2 linked regions of the Homo sapiens genome follow. The protein of the gene in region 1 binds, or shares a complex with, the protein of each later gene. Links are inferred from orthologs where the notes say so. Each region holds a gene or a part of one and is shown in the gene's direction. Other genes may lie near its edges.

Region 1 (2,957 bases):
CAGGATTCCATGAGAGACTTGGGGAACTTGGGCTGACAAAGGAAGTAGCCTGGGGCATCCTTAAGGAAGGAATTAAGAAAAGGGAAAAAGCTGGACTCAAGCCACGCCATGAGGGTGAAAGGTTATAAGGCCCTGCCCCCTTTCCAGCTGCCCACCTGTTCCTCCTCCACACCTCTTCGCTTTGGGCCACCAAGAACCAATGAAGTCCACACCCTTTGGATGAGAAAAAGAGGGAGTTGGTTGGCCTCTCTTCTCCCTGTTATCCAATTTGAGGATATTTTGACCTTGGGTAAGGATGAAGTGTTAAAGCCACAGCTCCTCTCCACAAGAAGCCATTCATCTTGGGGGAGGCAGAGAGGGAAGTCTCTCTCCAAAGTCTATCCAGCTTCGCTTCGTTTCATTGATCTGCACAAGAGACAATGCTCTGGAAAAGGAAGAGGACCCCAGAAGGGTGCTTGGCAAGACAGAGGATGCTAATGGGCAATGGAGAGCACTCCCTCCAGCTGGCCCCTGCTGCTGCCTCCCGTCCTCTGCATGGGGTCAGGTGCTTCTGTGCTTGCTGTCCTACCTCTCTCCACAGCAGGGCTCTCAAAACCATTTTGATCCCCCATTGGCAGAGGGTTCCCCTCTTTACAGAGTTCAGTCATTAAAAGCATGGATCAGCTGTTAATCTCATTGGAGGAGGGAACTGTTTCCTGCATTCATTCATCTGGGAACCTTCTTGAGTAGCCACTGTCTGCCAGCCACTGCTCTAGAGATGGGAAAACAGCACGGAACAAAACCAAGGTCTTTCTTCCAGCGAATTTATATCCTTCAGGAAGCTGGTTCCTGCCACCAACTTAGCAGGCAACAGTTCTCCTCCCCTAGTGGCACAGGGTACCAGTTTTGTAGGAAAAGTGGTCCAGCAAAGGAAGAAAGCAGACCAACCCAGCTGCCTTACCTTATTCTGGGGCCATTCCCCCAGCGATGAGAGCTGCTCTTGTTTCTACTGCCACCATCTCTTCTGGCTGCACTTCACCTGCTGCTTGAGCTTCTGACCTTCCTTCAGTTCCACCAAATGAGGACAGGAAATAGCAGTCAAGACCCCTGGCCCTGCTGAGCGTGAAACAGAAGCAATGGATGAGTGCTGGACGAAGAATGGCCTGGGCAGAACAAATAGGGAGCATTTGAAAGCTTCTGGCTGATAAATCTCCAGGTGCATCCCGGTTGCCACGCCTGCCCCCATTAACCTGCTCCTGGTAAATACTGATCCAGCAGCTGCTCCAGGAGAGGCCGTCTTTTTTTCCCAGCCACGCTGTGTCTTGCATGAGACTCCTGGGGCCTGGGCACAGAGAGAAAAGAATTGAGACTCAGGAGGCTCAGTGGGTGAGAAAATGCAAAGTGGCTTCACAGACACAGGGCTGTGGGAGCAGATCGACGGGGAACTTGGGAGATGAACTTCAGGGCCTTCCGACGCCTTGTCTCAGGAACATGCTTTGAGAAAAATGGTAGCATCCTTTCCATAACTCAGTCTCTCTTCCCTAGTTTCCCTGAAGTGTGACGTTTTAGTATCTGGAGCTCAGTGATCCCCATGAATGAGGGATAAAGTTTCACTCTTGGTATTTTCTAACTAGTGCTAGGGAAAGTCCTGAGACACGATCACAGCCACTGCTTGGCATACAGGGCCTCCACCCAATAAGCAAACTGGAGATTCCTCAGCCTCTCGTGGACACCCACATCTCATTCTTCTCACAGCAGAGAAGCTCTCCCTTCAGCCTGAGCTGTCTTCTTTCTGCTGCAGTGCAGCCTGCTCCCTCCTACCCTGGCCTCAAGGAAGGTAGGAAACATCTTCTGCATTTCAAAGTCCTCACTTTGACTTATTTGGCCTTCATCTTGGCATGGAAGGTGGCAGGCAGAATGGAAATACTCCCCCCAAACAGAACAGATATTCTTGCGTGTGTAAGGGCAGAAGGGACAAGCTCTCTATCCCATGAGACTAGGGGCCGGAGCCCACCTGCCTTTCCCCACAACTTTTCCTGCTCAAACCCACTCCTCTTGACACACTGGAATCTGTATTATATATATTTTTAAGAAAATACAATGATGGTTGTCTGGTTTTGTTGTTTTTACAGGTGTTGTGGAATAAAAACTGTAAGAAAATTAAGTATTTAAAATGTTCCAATAAAGTGGGGTTTTTTGTTATTCTAATATATTATTGTGTACCTATTGTAAATATGAAACACTCCTATTTTGCAAGCTGAGGACACAATTTGTACTGTTGTTATATATAAATAAAGTTTACTGAATTAAAAAAACCTTAAATCTTTAAATAAACCCGATTGTTCAGCAGCATATATGCAGAATAACATTTTAAGGGCATATTTAAGAATGGTACTCATGGAAATATGAGCTAAGTTGTTTTGAGGGAGTTTTAGAATTCTCTCTGGAGCCAGAGCTTATTAATGTACCAGTCATCATCATCAACATAACACACACACACACACACACACACACACACACACACACACACACACACACACACACACACGAGATACCGTGGCTTATACCAGCAGGTGAACACTGCCCCCTAGCCCCAAGACCTCAGAATACAGCTTTCCTCCAACTGGAGGCAGCTAGTGTACTCCATGAGTTAGGACCCCTTCCCAGGAGAGAAGGGAGGTCTCAGAAGAATGAGATCCTCCTCTGCCTCCATGCTTAATACATGTTCTTCATGTGTTTGTACATTCATGTATACAAAGTGCATTCTTGTGCTTGTACAAAACGTATTAAGCACGGCCTGGCACTGTGGTAAGTGCTGGGGGATAACATAATAAGTGAGAAAGACATGATCCTTGTCCTCATCAACCTTTTAGTGTAGTGAAAAGCATAGGCTTGCTTAAAAAGGAATGTTTCACCATGCCTTGAGAAGGGGTTTTATGGTTGCTTTTTTTTGGTCATTTTCAGTTAAAGGATTAAAG
Region 2 (3,914 bases), on another chromosome or scaffold:
CACGTGGTCAGAAGGAAGGGCTCCTACTTGGATGGTGAGACTAGGATCTAGTAATTGCCAGGAAGATTCTGGGTGGTATTTCTTCACTGTGAAAAGTAGACTCCAATTCTTTAACTCTCGTATTCTATAATTTTAAATTAGGTAAATTTAATCGCTCGCTTCTTGGCTCAGCGTTACTACAAATTAAACATGCAAGTATTAATATTGAATATAATGTCCCTTTAAACAATATCCTGAAACTCGTTGTGGGGCATTTCCAATATATCCATAAAGCAAATAAAACAACTTAATTGTTTGTTTCTCTAAGGGAAGGAGCTAAACCCGAAATTAATTTAGTTCGGCCTGTGAAACAATTCGTTTGCTCTGCCTAATTCTGCCAATTTAAGAACTTTTCCCAGACACAATTAGCATGTAAATCGGCGGCGGGGAGCGAAGAAGGAGCCTCGGCGACCCCGGTTGGGTGGAGCGCGGGACAAAAAACCCCGGAGGCCGAAGGGTCCGGAGCTTCGAAGGGGCTGCAGTACCGCGCCTGGGGCGCACGGACGAGCCAGGGGACCAGCTCACACTGACCCTGCAGTCATCAGCCAAAATCTGGGTGTTAAATAGCGCAGCCGGGGATCCAGCCGTCTTGGCCGCCAGATCCTTCTCCTAACCCCGCGGGATTCTGAGGAGACGTCCTGGAGCCGGCCCCCACCCAACCCGCGGGAAAGCGCAATCCTACCCACCGCCCCACACTCCCCAACCCCCTCCCGAGGCTGGCTCTTGAAGCCGCGGGGGCTGCGCGCGCACCTAGGGCCGCGCCCCCCACTACCCCAGGTCTATAGAGGCCTTTGCCCGAGAAAGGTGGGGATAGCGGCCCCTGCTGACAGCTCTGGAGAACAGCAGGGGTACTGATTTTTTCTTTTTTTCCTACCATTCTCCCTACCTTTTCCAGGTGGTGGTAGTGGTGCGGGGGGAATGGGTGTTGACCCATGTGCATTTATTCTTCGTGAAGCCTCTTAAGCAGATGTCTGTACTTAGAGAAGCGACCAAAGAGGGAACGTGGACTTATTAGTGGTCTTAGTCCCAATTAGGGAACAGGTACAGTTTCCAATATAAAGAAACTCGGCCTAAGTGGGACTGAGACCCCGATCTCCGCACTTGCTTTTCTCAGCCAACTCCATGACTAGTAAATATCTCTCCGAGAACTGCTGGGCCGCCCGATGTTACTTTGTTTAAAGGTTGCGACTAGGATCCGTACCATCTGCGAAGCCCCCTTGGGGAGCAAGAGCCGCGGCGCGCAGTTGATTTCGGGGCGCAGCGGCAGGGGGAGGGGAACGTGGTGTGGCCCGACGAGTTGGCACAAGCCTGTAACTGCAAGACTTTGTAGCTATTGAAAGTTCAAGTGGTGAAAGAAGGCTGTGCCTGCCATTCTTCATGTGATCATAACAATAGCGCCTTGGAAGTGGTTGCGATTTTCTTCTTCCATAAACCTTTTGGGTTCTCACTGGAATTGTATGCGTGTTATTTCTGAAGTTTACTTATTTCTAAGACCAGTCCACAAAATGTGAACTTCATTAAGTTTTAAAATAGATCGCCGTCGTTAAAAACGCCATTCTCTGCACTGTAGTTTATTTGCTTACTTCACATGCTTTATTAACGTGTGTATGTGCGTAATTAATAGCTGTGTTCTTATCTTCCAAGTGTATTTTTAACCGCACCGGCTTCTATCCAATTCATCTAACTACGTAGAGCGTCCATCGCTTCTGGAATCTACCTCTTGATAACAGTAATCAGAATCAGAAAAGCTCGCCGTTCACTTACCCTCATCCTTTAAAACTTTTCCATTTAAGAAAATCGATGAACAAAACCTTTCTTGTAACTCGCTCCTGCACTACGTCTATTTTTATTTATTTTTCTGATTTGGCAGGACTCAGCAATGCTGTCCGGGATTTTTTTTTTCTTTTTTTTTTTCCTAGCTAGAGCAGATGTGGGGGTGGGGGAGGTGAGGGCTGGGCTCCAGCCAGAGTCGCCCCCGCTGAGCCTCCGCCTAGCGCGCGGTGGGGCCAGGAATCCTGGTGGAAGGAAGCGGCGCTGGCCAGTTGGTCCAAGGCTCCACCTGCAGCCACACCGCGTAGTTTCTCCGCCTCTGCCTCGCTCACTCGCACTCACATACACCACAGCTCTCCTTTGGGTCGGAGGAGACGCCAGCCAAAGTAGGCGGAGTTGCGGAAGGAGAGTCCGATCTGCGCAATCCAGTCCGGGACTTGGCTCCGCCCGGGAGCGGCGGCCTCTCCGGTGACAGAGGAGTAGTGAGCGGCACGGGGTGAGGCTGCAGCCAACTCCGCTCCCCGCGCACTCGGCTGCCCAGGCGCTCGGAACCCAGCAGCGGCGCTCCTCCGCGGTGCCGGTCGCCCGCGATGCCCGCTTAGCAGCGTGTAGCAGCGGCCAGCATCACCACACCCGCGGCACCGCGCTGCCGGCCGCAGAGCCGGGCCAGAGCCTTGCACCCCTGCCCCAGCCCCCACCCCGCCCCCCGCCCTGAAATGACTTGTTAATCGGCGCAGACACCACCAAGGGGACTCACCGAAGTGGAATCCAAGTGGAATTTGGATTTGGAGAAGAGTTTCTTGAACATTTACCCTCTTCCTTGTTGGTTTTCTTTTTCTTTTTCTTCTTTTTTTTTTTGGCTTCTTTTTTCCTCTCCCCTTCTCCGCTCGTCATTGGAGATGAACACATCGCGTTTGCATCCCAGAAAGTAGTCGCCGCGACTATTTCCCCCAAAGAGACAAGCACACATGTAGGAATGACAAAGGCTTGCGAAGGAGAGAGCGCAGCCCGCGGCCCGGAGAGATCCCCTCGATAATGGATTACTAAATGGGATACACGCTGTACCAGTTCGCTCCGAGCCCCGGCCGCCTGTCCGTCGATGCACCGAAAAGGTACGCCCCGGGCGCCCGGGCGCGCCCCACCTCCCGGGCAGCTGGACTCCAGCCTGAGGGTCCCGGGGCCGTGGCTAGCGCGTGCTGTCGGCTTTGTGGTGCCTGCGTTTTATTTTGTCTTGTGTCTCTGTTTCCCGAGCCTTGCCCGGTCCTGGGGGAGCAGCCGTGAGCCCTGCCTGCCTTTCCTCTCTGCCCTGCGCCCCAGAGTGCGTCCGGCTCCACGTCGAGAGCTTTCCCACCCGCGTTGCGCACACGCCCGGCGCCGCCCCGGGCCGCGACGGCGCGTATGGCTGTTCCTCCTGGGGGTGTGTGTGCGAGACCCAAGGCTCATCCTCCCGCGTGCCCAGCAGGGAGCAGAGCGGGCCCTAAATGGTGGGATTCTCGGAAGCTCCCTGGCCCGGTGTGTCGAAGGCAGGGGAAGGGGTTCTGCCCTCGAGGGCTGGAGGGGGTTGGGTATAACAGCGCTGTTTTCGTCCAGTGCCAGGTGGGAGAAGGGGTTCCGCGGAGACGGTGTGGAAGCGGAGAGAATCTTTTGTTGTCAGTGTGGGGTCTGGGCTGGGCTCCGTGGAGTGCAAGAAACTTGTAATGGCTCTAGGCACCCGCGCGCCCTGTCTCTCGGTGAGATCCTGGCTCCTGTGGCCGCTGCCACCAGAGGTTCCGGGCTTTGTTTGCTCGAATAAGTGTCCGGGAGCAGCCGTTCGGGTGACGCGGCGCCCCCGCCATGGGTCCTGTCCCCCGCCGCAGCTCCCAACCCGAGCGGCAAGGATATAGCCCGTCGCGGCTGCGTCCCTCCTGAAGCACCGAGCCCTTTGCACCGGGCTGGCGCACGGTACGCCCTCCTCCCAGATCAGCGCGGTCTCGCTCTGGAAAGATGACCCAGGAGGGGGAAGGGTGAGAGACCTGGCAGAAGATGGCCCTGGGTTTGAAACCCAGACTAGGGCTCTGTTCCGACTCCTCACTGTGTCCTAGGGCGCTACCATGGGGGCAATGGGG

The links.
Region 2: the proteins of PLXNA2 (region 1) and SEMA6A are in contact, whole or in part, in a crystal structure (PDB 3AL8), measured with the Mus musculus proteins. The link is inferred for Homo sapiens from one-to-one orthologs. Residues at the interface, in NP_032908.2 of Mus musculus: Ala93, Cys94, Tyr95, Pro96, Lys155, Gln192, Asp193, Tyr194, Asp220, Phe221, Val222, Pro229, Ser230, Asp231, Leu386, Lys389, Val391, Thr394, Lys395, Ala396, Pro397, Val398, Leu407, Asp408, Ile409, Asn410, Gln411; in NP_061214.2 of Mus musculus: Arg108, Met109, Lys110, Gly111, Met162, Ala163, Thr188, Phe190, Leu191, Ile193, Tyr198, Thr206, Arg208, His212, Asp213, Ser214, Glu219, Gln266, Arg267, Glu270, Lys271, Lys393.

The regions. Positions count from the first base shown.
Region 1 is NC_000001.11:208,021,598-208,024,554, reverse strand, and holds the end of PLXNA2 (plexin-A2 precursor), read left to right. Parts: 3' UTR 1-2,313; downstream 2,314-2,957. UniProt on the Homo sapiens protein: Coreceptor for SEMA3A and SEMA6A. Necessary for signaling by SEMA6A and class 3 semaphorins and subsequent remodeling of the cytoskeleton. Plays a role in axon guidance, invasive growth and cell migration.
Region 2 is NC_000005.10:116,573,192-116,577,105, reverse strand, and holds the start of SEMA6A (semaphorin-6A isoform 2 precursor), read left to right. Parts: upstream 1-2,282; 5' UTR 2,283-2,921; intron 2,922-3,765; exon of another isoform or gene 3,766-3,914. UniProt on the Homo sapiens protein: Cell surface receptor for PLXNA2 that plays an important role in cell-cell signaling. Required for normal granule cell migration in the developing cerebellum.